Regions from separate parts of the Homo sapiens genome. Here region 2 is linked to region 1. Evidence: fine-mapped expression QTL. Tissue or cell type: whole blood. Region 1 holds a variant in brackets; the other region holds the start of a gene. All regions are shown on one strand. Distances are from middle to middle.

Region 1 (8,177 bases):
GCGGAAACGGAGGCTGGGCTCTGTCTTGTACTGTAGAGAACTCTCTGGCCTGTTTTTTCACCTGCTTGATGGGACAGTTGCCCTGTGCTTCTCCCTTCCTCATAAGGTTGTCCTGAAGTTCCAATGTGAAATGCACTTGGTAAAGTGGCATTTGGAATCTACAACTATTGTGGGCTGAATCCTGTTAGTAGGGCTGCCCCACAGAAGGAACATCAGACCCAGAGTGGGGAGGTGAGGCATGTACTTAGGAAACACCAGGCCACCGGGGTCAGGGCCAGGCTGGGTGGAGCACAGGCTGAGTGCTGCTTGGCTTGGAGCAGGAGGCCCATTCATTTCCACTGGATGTTGATGGATGTACTGAAGGGGGTGAGGGTGGCCTGGCGTGCCTGGTTGTGGGACCCACAAGGGTGAGGGCAGGGAAGGGCCTTAGGTCCTGGGAGGACCTTGAGGGCCTTGAGCAGCTCTGTGGGGCAGCTCTGGAACTTCTCTCTAGGAGGGCACAGGTTGGGTCTGGGGGCAGGAAGCGCTGCAGCTTCTTCTGAGCGTGCAGCCAGTACACCAGCTCTGCTCCTGGCTGTTGGACACACAGGGCTTTCAGGAAACATTGATTTTGCACAAAGAATTCAGCCGCTGAAATGTCTGAAAACCACCCATCTATCTCGTCCAGATGGAAATAAGCGTGGGCTGTGCCGAACTCTTGGAAAGTCAGGGCTGGAGGAAAACTTCTAGTGGGGCTTTTTTTTCCTGTTCAACACTACGGGGCAGCTGGGATCTGGATTTGCCTAAAATATTGGGGATGTGTGGGGCAAATTCATGGTGTTGAGATGAGGGTGCCTAAGGGGGTACTTGAGTGCTGGGCAAAGGAGTTTAGACTGGAGGCCACAGTGGTGGGTGGGATGGAGACAGATGCCCAGAATCCAGGTCATGGTTCTCCCCAGCTCCTTGAAATGATGCTTTAGGTACCTGGGAGATTGCTGGAGGTTGGAAGTGGGGCTGAAGTGTGCTTTCCCACTGTCACTCTGGGTCTAGTCCCTGGTGGCAGCCAGGAGAGTGTCAGCAGGGCAGAGCACTGGGTGAGGTCTTAGGCCACTCTGAGTTTCTGCTGACCTTGAAATGTCCAAATGCCTGACTTCCTGGAAGTGAGCACATGAGCATTCCAGATACTCTTAACCCTATTCTCCCTGGGCCCCCCTCCCTAAGGCATTTGCCCCCAACACCTGGCTGCATGGAACCTAGAGATAGACAGGAGCCAGCCTTTTTCAGAAGAAGGCATTGCCTTTCCGTGAGTTGACCAGCTCCTTCCTAATTGTTACACTCCCCTCCCTCTGCTCCTTCCTGAAAGAACCAACAGGGCAGGGTCCCTCCCATCCAGGTAACACCTTCTCGCTTCCCAGGGACTTCCTTGTCTCAGAAGGCTCCCTAGAGGGAAAAGGAGAGACTGCCCTCCAGATGCAGAGAGGCTTGTGGTCTTTCTCTGCCATTTTGGAGCAGTAGAGGCCAGGTCTCTATCTATAAGGTGGAACAAACATTTAGCGGCTTGGGACTTTCGAAATCTCTGCAGCTGACTCAGGGAAAGCTGCTTCACCATGCTGTCTCGCAGTTAGTGGATGGTGCTCTAACGGTGTGCATCTCGTGTGTGTATCCTTAGCTATCCTGCAGGCCCTGGTGGGCAGGGATTACGTTCTGTGAACCACACACTTGGATCCTGGGCTCCCAGGATCCTGGAGTCACTCCGCCCAAACGTGGAGCTGCCAGCCCACAGTGTAGCCTGGCTTTCACCAGTAGGGAAACTTGACATTCTCCTGCAAGAGGAGAAAGAAATAAATTCTCCCCTGTTCCCATGTGGCATGTGATCACTGAGGGTCAAACCTAAAAATAACAGAGTGCATTAATCAGGATTAGATTTGGCTGCAAGTAATAGGAAAAGCCAAATAACAGTGGTTTACACAACTTGGAAGTTTATTTCTTCGTCCTGTCTAAGCCCAGAGTTTTGCAGACCAGGTCTGGTATAGTAGCTCTACCCTATAGTTTCCTTGGGGAACTTGATGTCCACCGCACTGTTCCCAGGCTGTGGCTTCAAGGGCTCATGGTTCAAGATGGCTGTGAAACTTAAGTCATCATATCTGTGTCCAGGCAGCAGGATCGAGACAGGGAGGAAAGGGGTCTTGTAAGGAAGGATTCCAGAACTTGGCATCTTATACTGACGCTTATGTCCCTGTCTTAGTCCATTTTCTGCTGCTATCACAGAATATCATGGACTGGGTAATTTATAATGAACAGAAATTTATTTGACTTACAATTCTGGAGGCTGGGAGGTCTAAGAGCACAGCACTGACATCTGCTTGGCATCTGGTGCAGGCCTTCTTGCTGTGTCCTCTTATGGCAGAAGGCAGAAGGGCAGGTGAGCATGTGAAACAGATAAAACTCACTCCCCAAATCCCAATTTTAAAAGGCATTGAGGGCGGGGCGTGGTGGCTCACGCCTGTAATCCCAGCACTTTGGGAGGCCGAGGCAGGTGGATCATGAGGTCAGGAGTTCGAGACCAGCCTGGCCAACATGGTGAAACCCCATCTCTACTAAAAATACAAAAATTAGCCGGGTGTGGTGGCGGGTGCCTGTAGTCCCAGCTACTCGGGAGGCTGAGGCAGAAGAATCACTTGAACCTGGGAGGCGGAGGTTGCAGTGAGCTGAGATCGCGCCATTGCACTCCAGCCTGGAGACAGAGCGAGACTCCGTCTCAAAAGAGAAAAAAAAAAGGCATTGAATCCACCGTGAGGACAGAGCCCTCATGGCCTAATCACACCTCTTAAAGGCCTCTTAATACTATTATAATGGCAATTAAATTCCAACATGAGTTTTGGAGGGGCCATTCAAACCATAGCAGTACTGTTAGCCTGTTAGTCACATGGCCCCAGGTCGCTGCAAGGGAGGTGGGGAATGCAGTCTTGGCTCTGGGCAGCTGTGTGCTCAGCTGGCTGTCCCTGCTTCTGGGGGATGAAGGCATTGTGAGATTTTTGATTAAATCTGGGCCATTTCCAGGCTGAAAAGCTGGACCAGAGCTTCAGGGCTTGAGTCTCTCACAGAGAGATTTCCCAATGGGGACATCAGTCCTGCCTTGGGACCAGAAAGCCACATGCTGTAGGCCAGGAAGGGGGAAGCAGGGGCTGAGCCCGAGGGAGAAAGGCTTTAGAGGTGTTAGCAGACAGCTCAGTGGCAGTGGTTAGAATTAGGGAGGCAGCGACCTCTTCTTAGTGTGGTCAGAGCATGCCAAGAAAGTGTGGTCTGTGTCTGGGCTGCTGAGGCCCGAGGGCAAGGGCCAAGCTCATTCATAGGACAGTGGCCAAGAAGCGGGGACTGAAAGGCTTGGGAAAAGTAAGGAAGCTCTGCAGGTTCTGGGACACAAGTGAACACGGTAAGCAGTGGAAGGCCCACCCCAGGACAGGGTTAGACTGGGAGCACTGTCTCCTTGTAGCCCACAAGAGGCCAGGGCAGGGCCCAAGTACAGTGTGGAAGTCCAGCCTGGTGGACTGCAGGGATCCCTGCCCAAGCCCACCCCCTGCTCACCTCCTCCAGTGGCACCTTGTTGTTGCACATTTTTTAATTCATCAAGAGAAGCCGGAGATCTAGATTTTTATTTGAAATTCATTGATTTCAAACTACGGGTGGCTAATTAGAGTGGAAAATACAAAACTATGATGATCATACAGATTGCTCCTGAGACCGACCCCTTTTTGCCTGTGGGCCACAAGCCGTCTCCCTCCAGTGAGGATGAATCCTCTGGGTCCTCAAGGGCAGAACCAGGAGGAATCCATGGAGCACTTCTCATAAGACAGCTTAACACTTTTTTCAGTTTTACTTTTGAAATTTTTTAACCCCCATTTTTTTATTTGGAAAAATTTTAAACCTACAGACAAATTGAAAGAGTTCGCCGGGTGCGGTGGCTTATGCCTGTAATCTCACCACTTTGGGAGGCCGAGGTGGGTGCATCATTTGAGGTTAGGAGTTCGAGACCAGCCTGGCCAACATGGTGAAACCCCATCTCTGCAAAA[A/T]AAATAAATAAATAAATAATTAAAAAATTAGCCAGGAGTGGTGGCACATGCCTGTAGTCCCAGCTACTTGGGAGGCTGAGGCAGGAATTGCTTGAATCCGGGAGGCGGAGGTTGCAGTGAGCCGAGATTGCACCACTGCCCTCCAGCCTGGGCGACACAGTGAGAATCCATCTCAAAAGATCAAAAAAAAGGAAGAGTGCAGTAAGTAAACTCCTGTCTGCCAACACCAGGTAAGATTTGTTCCATTTACTTCTCTCTCTAAATCATGAACGTCAGACATCAAGAGGCATTACCCCCAAACGCTTCAGCCTGTATTTCCTAAGAACAAGGGCATTCTCCTTTTAGCCACAATCTGAGGATGTTAACTTATTTATCCAGCATATACTCCATCCTCAAATTTTCCCAGTTGTCCTCAAAATGCTCATTACAGCCTTTCCCTGCTCCCCAATCTGAGATCCCATAGACAGAGCGGCAGAGCAGACCCACTTGGAGGCAGGCAACTAGGGGTGCTGGAAAAGGTCCTGAATTCCAGGAACCTGCAGGCCCGTGATGGCTGGCCCACACCCGGTGACCCAGGGACCGCTGCTGGCTGCGGGGCAGGCTTTGTCATCCCGAGAACCCGCCTGCCAGGTGAGCTGAGAGGGAGGCTTCCCCCTGCTCTCTGAGGGCGGGCAGGGACTTCCCCATCCCTCCACAGCTTCTCTCCACTCAGTGGGCCGACCTGATTTGCATTCCCACACTCTGCTGGCCCTGGGTGCTGGCCTCCATGTGCCACAGTGCCTCTGCGGGCCGTCCGGTCATTCTGTCCACCTTTGCCCACTTCCTGCTGCATGCCCACCTTGACTTGTCATCTCAGTGTGTGGCAGCCATGAGGCCTCCTTCCTGCCAGGACTTGGCGCTTGCTTCAAAGGCTCCCCAGGGATTGCAGGCTGAAGGCTGGAAGTCAGGGCTGCCCCCCGCAGTGGCAGCCCCGCCTGCAGAGCAAAGGACTGCATTTCCACACGTCCTCTAATTTCTGTTTTTAACTTTTAAACTATTTTTTTTCTAGTTTAGAAAAATATAAAAACACTTGAGAAACACATAATTTAGCAGGTGAAGGGTTCCTGTGATCCCAGCCCCCAGACAGCTTTATTTTAACATTTAGATTGGACTCTTCCTAGTTTTAAAGAGAAAGAGGCTGAGGGGCAGAGGTCATGAAGGATGGGTCTGTGGGACCCCCAAGAGATGAAGGAGTCGGGGCCAGGAGCCTCTGCCTCCATGAAGCCTGTCACCTGGGAGGTTCATGTCTTTGACTTTGCTCAGCCGTCACCTCTTCTGTAAACTGGGGATCCTAATTCTCGGCTCTCTTGAGGGCTGTAGCAAAGACACAAAAATCCTACCAGACTGTACAAGTGGAATTATTGTCAGGGGAACACGCGCTGCAGTGGGCAGAGTGCGCCTGGGCAGAGGGCCAGGGTTAAGGACACGGGGCCGGAGGAGCATGGGGTGCTTTGAGGTGGGTGGGGTGAGGGTTCTCTGGGTGAAGAGTTGTGACCTTTGCCCAACTTGGAAACTTATACAAATAACTAAACTTAAAAAGAAAATGTTCCTAGGGTAATCATGTTCATTGTAAGATGTTTAGAAGCGATGGATGAGCAAAACAGAAGAAAATAAATATCACCCTGCAGCTCACTACTCAGGAATAAGTACCATTGCTGTTGAAGTAGATGGCCCCCAGTCTTTGGTGCCTACTTGTTGAGAACCAGCCTTGGCCCATCATCAGTAACCAGACAGGGTGGGGAGGTAAAGTGATGGAGAGACTCTGCCCTGCCCTCTTGGATCAGATTCAAAAGGGAAGGAGATAGGTCAGTCAGGTGCTAGTGGCCCAAAGCTGGTGGGGGCAGAGGGTTGGAGAGAACTGGGCTGACTCAGGCTGGGCACCTGTTCTTCCAGGGGTGGAGGACTTGTGCGAGGGCCCAGAACAGAGCTGGGGCCTCCTGGTTCTTGAGGAAGGCCAAGAGCAGATGGGAACCTATCCCGAATGGCTTACCAGACAAAGCAGAATGAGGAGAGTGATGTGATGATCGTGGTTGTTAAGGAGGGTGGCTGCTGTGGCCCAGCCCAGCCTGGCTCTGCCCTGCTGGCTGCCTTGGTTGAGAGCCAGGGACTGCTGGCCATTCACAGATGGCGCCTGGGCGAGGCCCCTGGTTCTAGTCCTGGTCCTGAAGGTTCACGTCTGTGGCAGCTGGCAGTTGCTGGGAGTTCAGTGCAGGGTCAGCCATGGTGTGGGGGGATGAGGTCAGGGCAGATGAGGAGTTGGAGCCCTCGCTGTGCTGTGTGTCGGGCCATCCAGGTGTTGCTCTGCACACATTCACTGATTTCATCTTTATACGGTCCAGCAGGGGAGGTACCGGTGGTCCTCAGTTTACAGTTGGGGAAACAGTTTGGGGAAATCAAGCCATGAACCCAAGATAATGTGACTAATGCATGATAGAAGTGGGGTTCAGCTGGTGTCCTGCCCAGAGCCCACGATTCACAGAGCCTAAGCCCTGTGTCCCCAGCCAGGGGTCAGGATGTGAAGAGTTGCCACTCCTGCAAGCCCTCGCTTTTCTTTTTGTTCAATGGGAATGAAAACACCAACTTTCTGGGGCTTTTGCATGCCTCTAACAGATATTTATTAAACTCTTACCTGCCACAGGCACTGGGCTCAGCCCTGAGTACCCTGAGCTGAGCAAGAGGTGTCCTCAGGGTCACAGAGGACTTAAGACTCAGAGCAGTGCCACCCAGTAGAAATCTCACAGGAGCCACGTGTGGCACTTTATTTTTATTTTTTTGAGATGGAGTCTCGTTCTGTTGCCCAGGCTGGAGTGCAGTGGTGCGATCTCAGCTCATTGCAACCTCTGCCTTCTGGGTTCCAGCGATCCTCCTGCCTCAGCCTCCCGAATAGCTGGGACTACAGGCGTGCAACCACCACGCCTGGCTAATTTTTGTATTTTTATAAAAAAGGCACAGTTTTTCCATGTTGGTCAGGCTGGTCTTGAATTCCTGACCTCAAGTGATCCGCCCACCTCAGCCTCTTACAGGTGTGAGCTATCGCTCCCAGCCTTGTGTGGCACTTTAAACAGCTGCCTTCAAATACAGATGAATGAGTGAACTTAGTTTTAATAACATATATTATTTAACTCAGTATATCAAAAGATTATCATTTTGAGATGTAATCAACATAAACTATGTTTTGGTTCTTAGTTTTTTATTTTTTGAGACAGAGTCTCACTCTTGTCCAGGCTGGAGTGCAGTAGTTCGATCATGGTTCACTGTAGCCTTGACCTCCTGGGCTCAAGCGATCCTCCTGTCTCAGTCTTCTAAGTTGCTGCTACTACAGGCATGCACCACCACACCTGGCCATTTTTTTTTCTTTCTATCTTTGGCAGAGACAGCGTTTCTGTGTTGCCCAGGCTGGTCTCAAATTCCTGGGCTCAAGCAATCCTCCTGACTCGACCTCTCAATGTGCTATTATGGACATAAGCCACTGTGCCCAGCCCCAATATACATTGTTAATGAGATATTTTACTGTATTTTTTTTTTTGTAGCTAGTCTTCAGAATCCGGTATGTATGTTACACTTGCAGCATGTCCTAGTGTGGACCAGCCAGATTTCCAGGGCTCAGTGATCACAAGGCACACAGCCCAGCTTCAGAGGCCAATGGGCCAGTGTCCCCCAAACACCTAGAATCACCTTACCTTTATTGGCCAGGCCCTTTTCTGAGGTCTTTACCCACAAGATATTATTTAACTTTCGCAACTACCCCATGAAGGAGGTGCTACTGTTGTTCCCATTTCACAGAAGTGGCAGCAGAGGTCCAGAGAGGTTATGGGGCCAAGGTTGCACAGCTGATGAATGACGGAGCTCAGTGGGAAGGTGTCACGAGAGGAGAACATTGTGGGACAAAGGATGGGGACACCTCTTGTTTTTAACAGATTTACTGAGGTAGCGTTCATACAATGAAATTACCCCTTTTTAAGTGTTCATTTTTTTTTTTTTTTTTGAGATGGAGTCTTGCTCTGTCACCCAGGCTGGAGTGCAGTGGTGCAATCTCAGCTCACTGCAGCCTCCGTCTCCTGGGTTCAAGCGATCCTCCTGCCTCAGCCT
Region 2 (8,177 bases), 34 kb before region 1:
AGACCACTGGGCTCAGGGCGAAATCACAGGCCACAAGACTCCCACCCTGAAGGGTGCACATGATCCCTGTTCTTGGCAGTAAGGTGGTCACAAGGAGCAAGGCCAGCCCATGTCCTGATGTTGTCCACTCCTCAGGTCCAGTGTCCCTCAGCTGTGGCAGATGTCAGGGAAGAGTGGGGAGTAGAGAAGAGCAGCAAGGGCCTGTTTCCCATCTTTGATCAAGATTCATCTTTGCTGGTTTGAACCCAGCTCCTCTGCTTTCCAGCGAGTCATTTGTGCCTGTCAGGAAATCATTTTTGGCTTGAGTGTTCCCTGGAGGGAATCTGGGGTTCCCACAGCTCATGTTTTTGCCCAGGAACTGAACTTGGGAGCTCTCTCCCAAGAGCACCAGCACCTTGCTTGGGCTGATGGGGCAGTGGATGGCCACAGGCGAGTCTGTCGGGGCGTGAGTAACAGGTTACTCATATTCTTTGCAGCAGCAGCTTGTCTGGTTTTGGACGGTTGCAGGTGCTTTGTGTGTGTGCTACACGTACACACACATACACACATGCTCACTTATAAAGCCACACTCACTCCCACTAGACACTTGCACAAACATGGATCCCTGCAAATATGAGTTCACGCACGAGCAATACAAGCATGATAACATGGTGTCTTGGACGTTTGTGTGTGGGGGATGTGGGTGCTGGCAGTGCTGGTGGAGTGCTGGGTGAGTGGGGGTCAGTCCCGACCTCTCTCCTTCCTGAGATCCTGTTCTGGGACCCATGAATCTTTTCTCAGGGGATTTTGGGCTTCTGCTCTGAGCTTCCAGATTTCTCAGGAATCTTCTGCTGCAGTTTGAGAGGCTCAAATGGGCTCAACTGAGAGCTGGCTCGACTGATTCTTTCGTTCTGCCTGGGGCTGGGGAGAGAGCAGGATGCCTTCTCTTGGGTGTACCCAGGGCTGCTCTGTGGCCTTCTCTCCTTCAACATTCAGTCCTTGTTCCCCTCCCAGGCCCACGGTGGGGCAGATCTGACTGAATCTTTCTTGTGGTTGGGACTTTTCTAGCCCCATAGCCAGCAGACAGCCAGGGCTGCAGGACTCGCTATTCTGAGTAGGGACTTGGCAGGCCCTCTGGGGGGCTGGTGGTGGGCTGGTGAGGCTGGGCACTGTGGTTTGGATGCAGTCTGTGGCCTGACCCTGAGGAACCTCCAAGCCCTCAGCCCCCTACCTACCAGCTGAACCCTGAGGCTAACTGTTAGATCCAGAAGGGTTGTGACTGCAGGCTGTCCTGAGAACATCTTTGTCCTGGGCTTTTCTGCTTGGTTCAACAAGAACACCTACTGTGTGTGTGGTGAGTACAAATGAATGTATGGAGACGTGCCAGGCACTGTGCTGTGGGCCAAAAGACAGGTCAGGCACAGGTAGGACATAGCTTTTGTTCTCTGGGAGCTAGAGAGGCACACCGCCGTGGATCCCAGCATCTGCTGGGCAGGGAGGGTGAGGGGAAGCAAAGTGTGTGTATTTGTATGTGTGTATTATGTGCATATGTGTATGTGCTATGTTTCTGTATGTATATATGTGTGCATGCATCCCTATAGGTATGCATGTTTATGTATATATTTGTATACATATATGTGCATGTATGTGTATACATGTGTGCATACACATGCACATGTATGTAAATGTATATTTTGCACCTGCTCACACACATGTTGCTCCTACCTTAGTCCTGGCCTAGAAGAGGACATTATCCTGGAATGCATCCTCAGGATGGCAGGCTTCAGCTGGGGAGTCTGACAGCTGGTGGGATGGGATATGGGGCTGTGGCAAGAGGAAGAAGGAAGGAAACTGTGGCCCAGGATGGAGTCCTAAAGTGTGCCACACACGATGCCTGGACATTACTTGCCCAGCTCACTGGCTTCTCAAATACCTCTTTGAAGGAGGATGAAGCCATCTTATGGATGTAGAAGTTGGGAATCTGAGAACTTACGTCACTTTTCCCAGACCACACAGCCAGTAAATTGTGAGCCACTTTGAGCCTAGCTCTGCTGAACTCTGAAGGTCAGGTCTGTTTCCCAAGGCCACTATGGGATTTTCTCTGCTGCTGTCCTTTTCACACACCTTGGGTGGCGCAGGAGCAGGTATGGAGCTGAGGACAAGTCTTCCCTGGGCCTGTTTCCTCATTTGTTAAAATAGGGATCAGAAAAGTACCGACCTTATAACTTCGCGAGGCACTTAAGAGCTAGGTGCTAGGGACATGGTGAGACCACCACAATGAGTGATTTCTCTTGTCTTCAGTTATTCTTAGGGGTCATGGGGAATGTGTTCCCCTCTCCCAGCCCAGCGCTCTCCAGCCTGACAGAGGTGGGGCCTACACTGCCTGCATCCTGGGGCAACCCCAGCTCGCCGAAATCCAGCTCCAGTCCTGAATGGGGGTGAGGCAGGTGGTAACAGGTGAGAAAAAAGGATTTCCCGAGTGTGGAGCAGCGAGAGGGAGGAAGTGACTCACCAACCACAACAAAGCCTATCTCTCCGCGAGGAAGCACAGCGAAGAGTGAACGCACGCACGTGGGTGCGTTCACCCACGTGCTCGCGGGGGCGTGCGGGGCCGTCGGAGTGGGCCGGGCTGGCTGCCGCCTAGTGCTAGTCCGCGCGTGTGGGGTGAGGAGTGGTGGGGGGGGCAGGCCTATGGTGCGGGTCACTGCCTGGAGCCGCATGATGGGTGGGGGCGGAGGGACCCCTCTCCATCCAAAGCTCTGCTCTGCTGTTCCCCTCTCACCTCTGGGGGCCGAGGGGCGCGTTTCCTTAGGACCCCGGGGCGTGGGAGAAGCCCCTGCTTGGGGGGACCGTCTGCTGTTTAGGGGCTCCCCTTCGACACGTGGGAGGCAAAAGTGCAGAGCGCACCATCATCCAGCTCCGGCCGCACTGCACAGCGAGGCCGGCCCGGAGCCCGGATGCTGGGCTCGGTCCCGCCGAGGCTCGGCCTGGCTGTAAAGCAGAGGGGGGCGAGGGAAGCCGGGCCAGCGGGTGTCGCGGGTAGCCGGCGTCCGGGACGGGGTGTGGCGCCCAGAGCGCTGCTGCCTCTCGCAGCCAGGAGGCTGGATGTCGGGTTTGGGTGTCTTCCAGAAGGAGCCGCACTAGCGACGAGGGAAGAGGAACTGGCTTCCCGGGCAGTCTCCCCCGCCCCAAACTTTTCCTCCTCGCGGAGGGTGGGCGGGCGGAGGGAGGAAGCGCAGCCGGGGAACGTGGCGCCCGCGTTCCTCCCGCCCGGGGGCTGCGGCTGGGCTGAGTGTGTCTTTAAATCTGAGCCCCCCGCCCCTCGCGGTGGGGCCGGGACTCGCGGTCCGGGCGGGGGCGGGCGCGGTGATTGGCGGCCGGGTCGGGTCCGCCCCTCGGCGTTGGGTAGCGGGGCGCTGGGGAGCAGCGCGGCGCGCACGGGCCGGGGCGCGCAGGTCCCGTCGCCGGTGAGCACGGGCTCCCTCTCGCGTGGCCTCGCCGGGTCCGCCTGGCCTGCCCACCTCCGGAGCCACCTCTGCCCCCGCATGGGCTGGCGAAGTTGGGAGGAGCGAGCTGGAGCCAGAGCGCGCGCCGGGCGCGCCCCGTCGCTGCCTGACTCGGCGCCCGCAGTTCGGGCGCAGCACGCCGGCCGCAGGAGCACGGATGCCCCCCGGAGCCGCGGGCTGGCAGGTACCGAAGTGTCCTGCCCTGGGGCTGGCGAGGGGAGGGCAAATCTGGAATCCCCCGGGCACCCCCCAGCCCGAGGCTGCTCCAGACACCAACTCCCCATCCTTTGGAGAGGTGAGGTCCTGGGCCTTCACCCCACACCCGCTCAGGATTGGTCCCTGGGAGGCAAGAGGGACTCACAGGGAGCAGTTGCTGGGTGGTTGTGTGTGTTGGACCCTGGGCTACCCCCTCTCCCGAGTTCCCTGGGTTTGGTGTAGGCATGGCCTGGTGACAATTCCACTTTTCATTGCCAGACCTGGGAGCATGGCCAGGAGCTAGGGTTTCCCGCGAAGTTAGGGGGAGATTGGGGAGAGGGAAGCCGCTTCATGACCGAGATGGGGTCCTGGGACTCATCTCTAGGGGGCGTGAGGCCCTCAGACCCAGGACGAGTCCAGAAGTCTCAGCGGGCACAGGCTTTGATTCTTGGCCCAGTCTGGCCCTCTTCCTCTGTAGGCCCGGGTCTCCAAGGAGAGTACGTTTTTCAGTTTCAGAGGGTTTTCCTGAAGGGGCAGTAACCTGTCAGAGAGAGAGTGGCCTATGGGAGACCCGGCTCCTGAAGGTGGCCGGGATGGTTGGAGCCCTTTCTCTTGGGTTGTCAGAGATGGGAGTAAAGCTTCATGGCCCAGGGAATCTTCTGGGCATCTCTACTCTCCCAGCCAGAGGCCCAGGAACCAACTCCTTGGCTTCTGGGTAGAGTAACCTGAACCCAGTGGCCGAGCACCTCTTAAATGCCAGGAAGGGCACTGGGCCGTGCCCCTGGAATGTGTGGATGGAGGAGGATTTGGAGGATTCTGTCCTCAGGAGGCTCAGCCCCTGGGGGCAAGACAGGACATAAACACACAAAGTTCCCCGATACAGGGTTTCAATACCAGTCCTGAACTGGTAATAGTGGAAAGCCAAGAGGCTACACACCATTAATTGCTATGTGAGTAATGTAGGCTGCGAGAGTGCCAGGGCAGCAGAGATCCAGTTCCATGCAAGCAAGCAAATGTGCTGAAATGTTCCAGCTCCATGCCCGCCCTTCCTTATTACCTTGCTCCAAGGGCAGGGAGCAGCAGGGGCGCTGAGGAGGTTCTCCTGCACTCATCCCCACCCACTCCCAGGTTTGTTTGTTTCCTGCTGGTGGATTTCTGAAATAACCCATTTGGTTTCTTGGCTTGGGCTGAGCACAGGACACTCCTAGTTGCCCTGTGGCTCCTGGGGTTTGGGGTCTAGAGCCAGCCTTGTAGGAGGTTCAGAGGTAAGCAGGAGGAAGTCCTCACTTCCTTTCTGAAGAGCCTCTGTCGCGGGGGGTTGGGGTAGGTCGGGAGGCTGGCAGGCACTGGGCCAGTTTCCTATGAGTGCAGACAGACCCCAGGTGGTGCATGCACCCCCCTCCCTTTCCTGGCCAGTGTTGGGGGTGGGCACAGTAGGGCCCAGGTGGCTTGAGGTGGGTGGTTCCTGGCACAGCTCTGACCTCACTTCTGTGAGGCTCTGCTGTATCTGGGGCCCTGCCCCCTCCCTCATTGTCCCTGGCAGGTTTCTGTTTTTCTGGAGCACTTCGTGGAGGTGGCAGTGTGCTCATGCTCGTGGCCTTGGGTGCAGTTCTGGGAGTGGGAGTTGCTGAGCTCACCCGAAGCCCTTGGCTGGCACTGTGAGAACTTGTGTGAACACACTTGCCTGCCTCCAAACAGGTGGTGCACAGACCTGGGTTACCCAGGCACCTGTGGGGGATGCCCCGTGTGGGCAGAGACGTGAGTGCGTGTGTGTGCTCAGGTTTACATCTGTGTGGGCAGAGACGTAGAGGAGCTGGATACATATATACTTGAGGACAGACACAGGAGGATGGTGGGGGTGAGCAAACAACCCAGGGACACAGACATGTGCGGGGACAGACATACATGAACCCATCAGCGTGGGCCACGTATGGGCTGCAGACACGTACATAGAAATACACCATTGCTGGGATCTGAATCTCCCCACATGGGAGGCAGACATGTAAGTGGACAGACATATAGGTAGACCCAGCAGAGCACAGACGGGGATGGGAACCGACATTCCCAGACAAAAGACTCGGAGCCACAGGGAAGCCGCTCAAGTGCCTGGGCAGAATGGAGTTGGCTGTGAGCTCCTGGGGGGCACAGACACATATGCTTGCCAGAGCCAGCGGACAGCAGAGGCCAGGAACCAGACACAGGTGGGTTCTGAGAGGTAGGCCGAGGCGTGCATTGCCTGGTTATCACTGTTTCCCTGCGTGGCACAGTGCCCGGAAGTTGTCCTGTTTGGGGTGGTGATGGTACAGGTGCTCTGTGGTGGAGCTTATTTCTAGACTCTCACTTTGGGGTTTGAGGACCCCAAAAAGCTCAGTCTCCTGTGTTTTACTCAGAGTCATTTGGCCTCTCCACCTCTGCATTACAAGGCTGTGTTTGTGCCTTAAGTGCCAGCAGGTGCTCTTTGAATTTTGATTCTCATCTTCCCTGGATCTCCAGAGGCTTCCTGAAGTGAGGCTGTGTGGCCTGGGTAGGGTGCTCCAACTGTTCCTTTCCTACCAGAATAGGAGAGGAACTGTCTGGGGATTCTCCTTCTGAACCCAAGCCTGCGGGTCTTTGACAGGGATCCCCCAGGTGAGAGAGAGAGCACACATGTAGCTGCGTCTGTGATGAGAGCCACTGCCCTCTGGGGCGGGCTCCTTCTCTGCTAAGCCGTGGGCTTGCACAGGGAAGGGGTCCCCCACCTGGCTATGCTCAGGTCTCCTCTGCCCAACCTGGCACCTGAGAGACAGCCCAGATTCTAGATATGCTTTGATACTAATGCACCATGCAACCTCCAGCAAGTCAATTAATGTATTGGTTTCCTCATCTTTAGAGTGGGGTCAGTAACCTCTACCTCCTTGTGGGTTCAGTGGGAGAAAATCAGTGCAAAGCATGTGGCCCAGTGCATGGCATGGAGTGAGTGCTCAGTTGATGTGGCGGTGGGGGCCTTTGATTATGAGCCATCCCCTGTGGCCAGGACTCTGCAGGGCTTCCTCAGCAGCCAGGTGCATGGCCCTGGGCCTCTGGGTGAGGTCTGGAGCAGGCTGGGTGGGCCAGGCACCTCTCCTGTGAAAGCTGGAGGGCTTTGTCCTCAGTCGGTGCCCACTAGTCCCTCCTTAGCCCTGTGGGACCTCCATACACGGGGTCAGGAAATGGCAGGCTGGGCGGGCGTATGGAAGCTTGGGCCTGCTGACTGCTGGGCCTCTGGGAGGGGAGCCAGTGTTTGCTAAGAATAGTCCCAAATCATGGCTTTCGTTTCCCAGAGGGCAGCCCAGCCATGTGCTGCCCCTGTCTTGGGCCAAGGCACTTGCAGATGGACTTTTTATGTTTCCTGTAACTGGTGCTCAGCACAGGATTGAGCCTGGGAGCAGCAGGCTTAGTCTGGGAGGAGGCTCTGTTTGTCTTCCGAGGCCTTTGGCTGGGACCCGGGGAAAGAGAAGGTCTGGAAGCACTGGCCTTTATAATCCCTGAGTTCCTTTTCCACTCAGGGCTTTTCCTGACACATCTGCCTCGACCATCTTCCTACCTGCAAATAGACCTGTTGTGATTAAGAACACTGGCTCTGGAAAGAAACTACCAGGGTCTGAATTTCTGCTCCCTCCCTCATTAGCCATGTGGCCCAGGGCAAGAAACTTAACCTCTCTGTGCCTCAAGTCCCTTGTGTAACAGGGTTAAGGATAGCAACTCCCTTATGAGAATGTCACAAGGATGAAAGGAGGTAATCGCAGAGAGCCTCCGAGGCTGTCTGGCTCCTAGGAAGTACTCAGTAAACATTAGGTGCTTATGTTATTACCACGATGTTATTCTCTCAGCAGAGGCCAGGATGCTTGCACAGGACCAGTTGGTGGGAAGGGACCAGCGTGGCATCTTGATGTGGGTTCCTGAGCTTTCTTGGCCCTGGGTTCAGTATGAGGTGCAGGGGCTCCGAAGGTAGATTAAACTCTGTCCCTGCCAGGAGGTGAGTGAGGTACATGCAGACACCATGTCTGGTTCTGTGATGGGGTCTGTGCTAGTTATGGTTGGAGCCTGAGGGAGGGAATGGCTGGCCTGGGGTGTGTGTGATACTTCACGTGGGCTTTGAGGGATGGCCAGGAGTTTGCAAAGGAGGAGGGCAAGGCTTCCCCAGCAGAAAGAGCAGCGTGGCAGAGGTGTGACAGCCCTTGTGAAGCGTTTTGTGTATTTCCCATAACTGGCATGTGGGCTGACTTTGGCTTTAAGGGGTGCCCCTGCCTGGGCTGAAGCTGGGGCACTGATGAGAGAGGCAGGTGGGGTGTCTGGGTCATCTGCACACCCATGGAAGGCAGTAGAGAACATCTTTGGGAACTGGGTGTGTCACTGCCAATGCTTTGGGCTCCCAGGGAGCTGGGGCTTTCAGAAATTCCCCAAGGAGAGAGGATGTGGTGCTGTGAGGGCTGTGGGTACCCTGGGAAACGGCCAACAGGCTGGGCTGGGGCCCATGGG

The links. PIP is the estimated chance that this variant, and not a neighbour inherited with it, causes the effect.
Region 2: it holds the start of PALD1, and the variant in region 1 is fine-mapped to the expression of PALD1 in whole blood (TOPMed, PIP above 0.99).

The regions. Positions count from the first base shown.
Region 1 is chr10:70,509,287-70,517,463 of GRCh38, forward strand. The region is part of intron 1 of PALD1 (phosphatase domain containing paladin 1); the gene reads left to right. Among named protein-coding and RNA genes, the nearest start is that of PALD1, 35 kb to the left of the region's middle. RefSeq lists enhancers at 4,155-4,690, 4,559-4,608, 4,691-5,225. The variant A/T (reference allele first, on the strand shown) is at 4,050.
Region 2 is chr10:70,475,391-70,483,567 of GRCh38, forward strand. It overlaps PALD1 (phosphatase domain containing paladin 1), which reads left to right and starts at 3,377. Exons shown (of 20, transcript NM_014431.3): 1 at 3,377-3,669. RefSeq lists enhancers at 1,083-1,162, 4,707-5,349, 4,993-5,172, 5,350-5,991, 7,485-8,032 and silencers at 2,993-3,062, 3,263-3,712.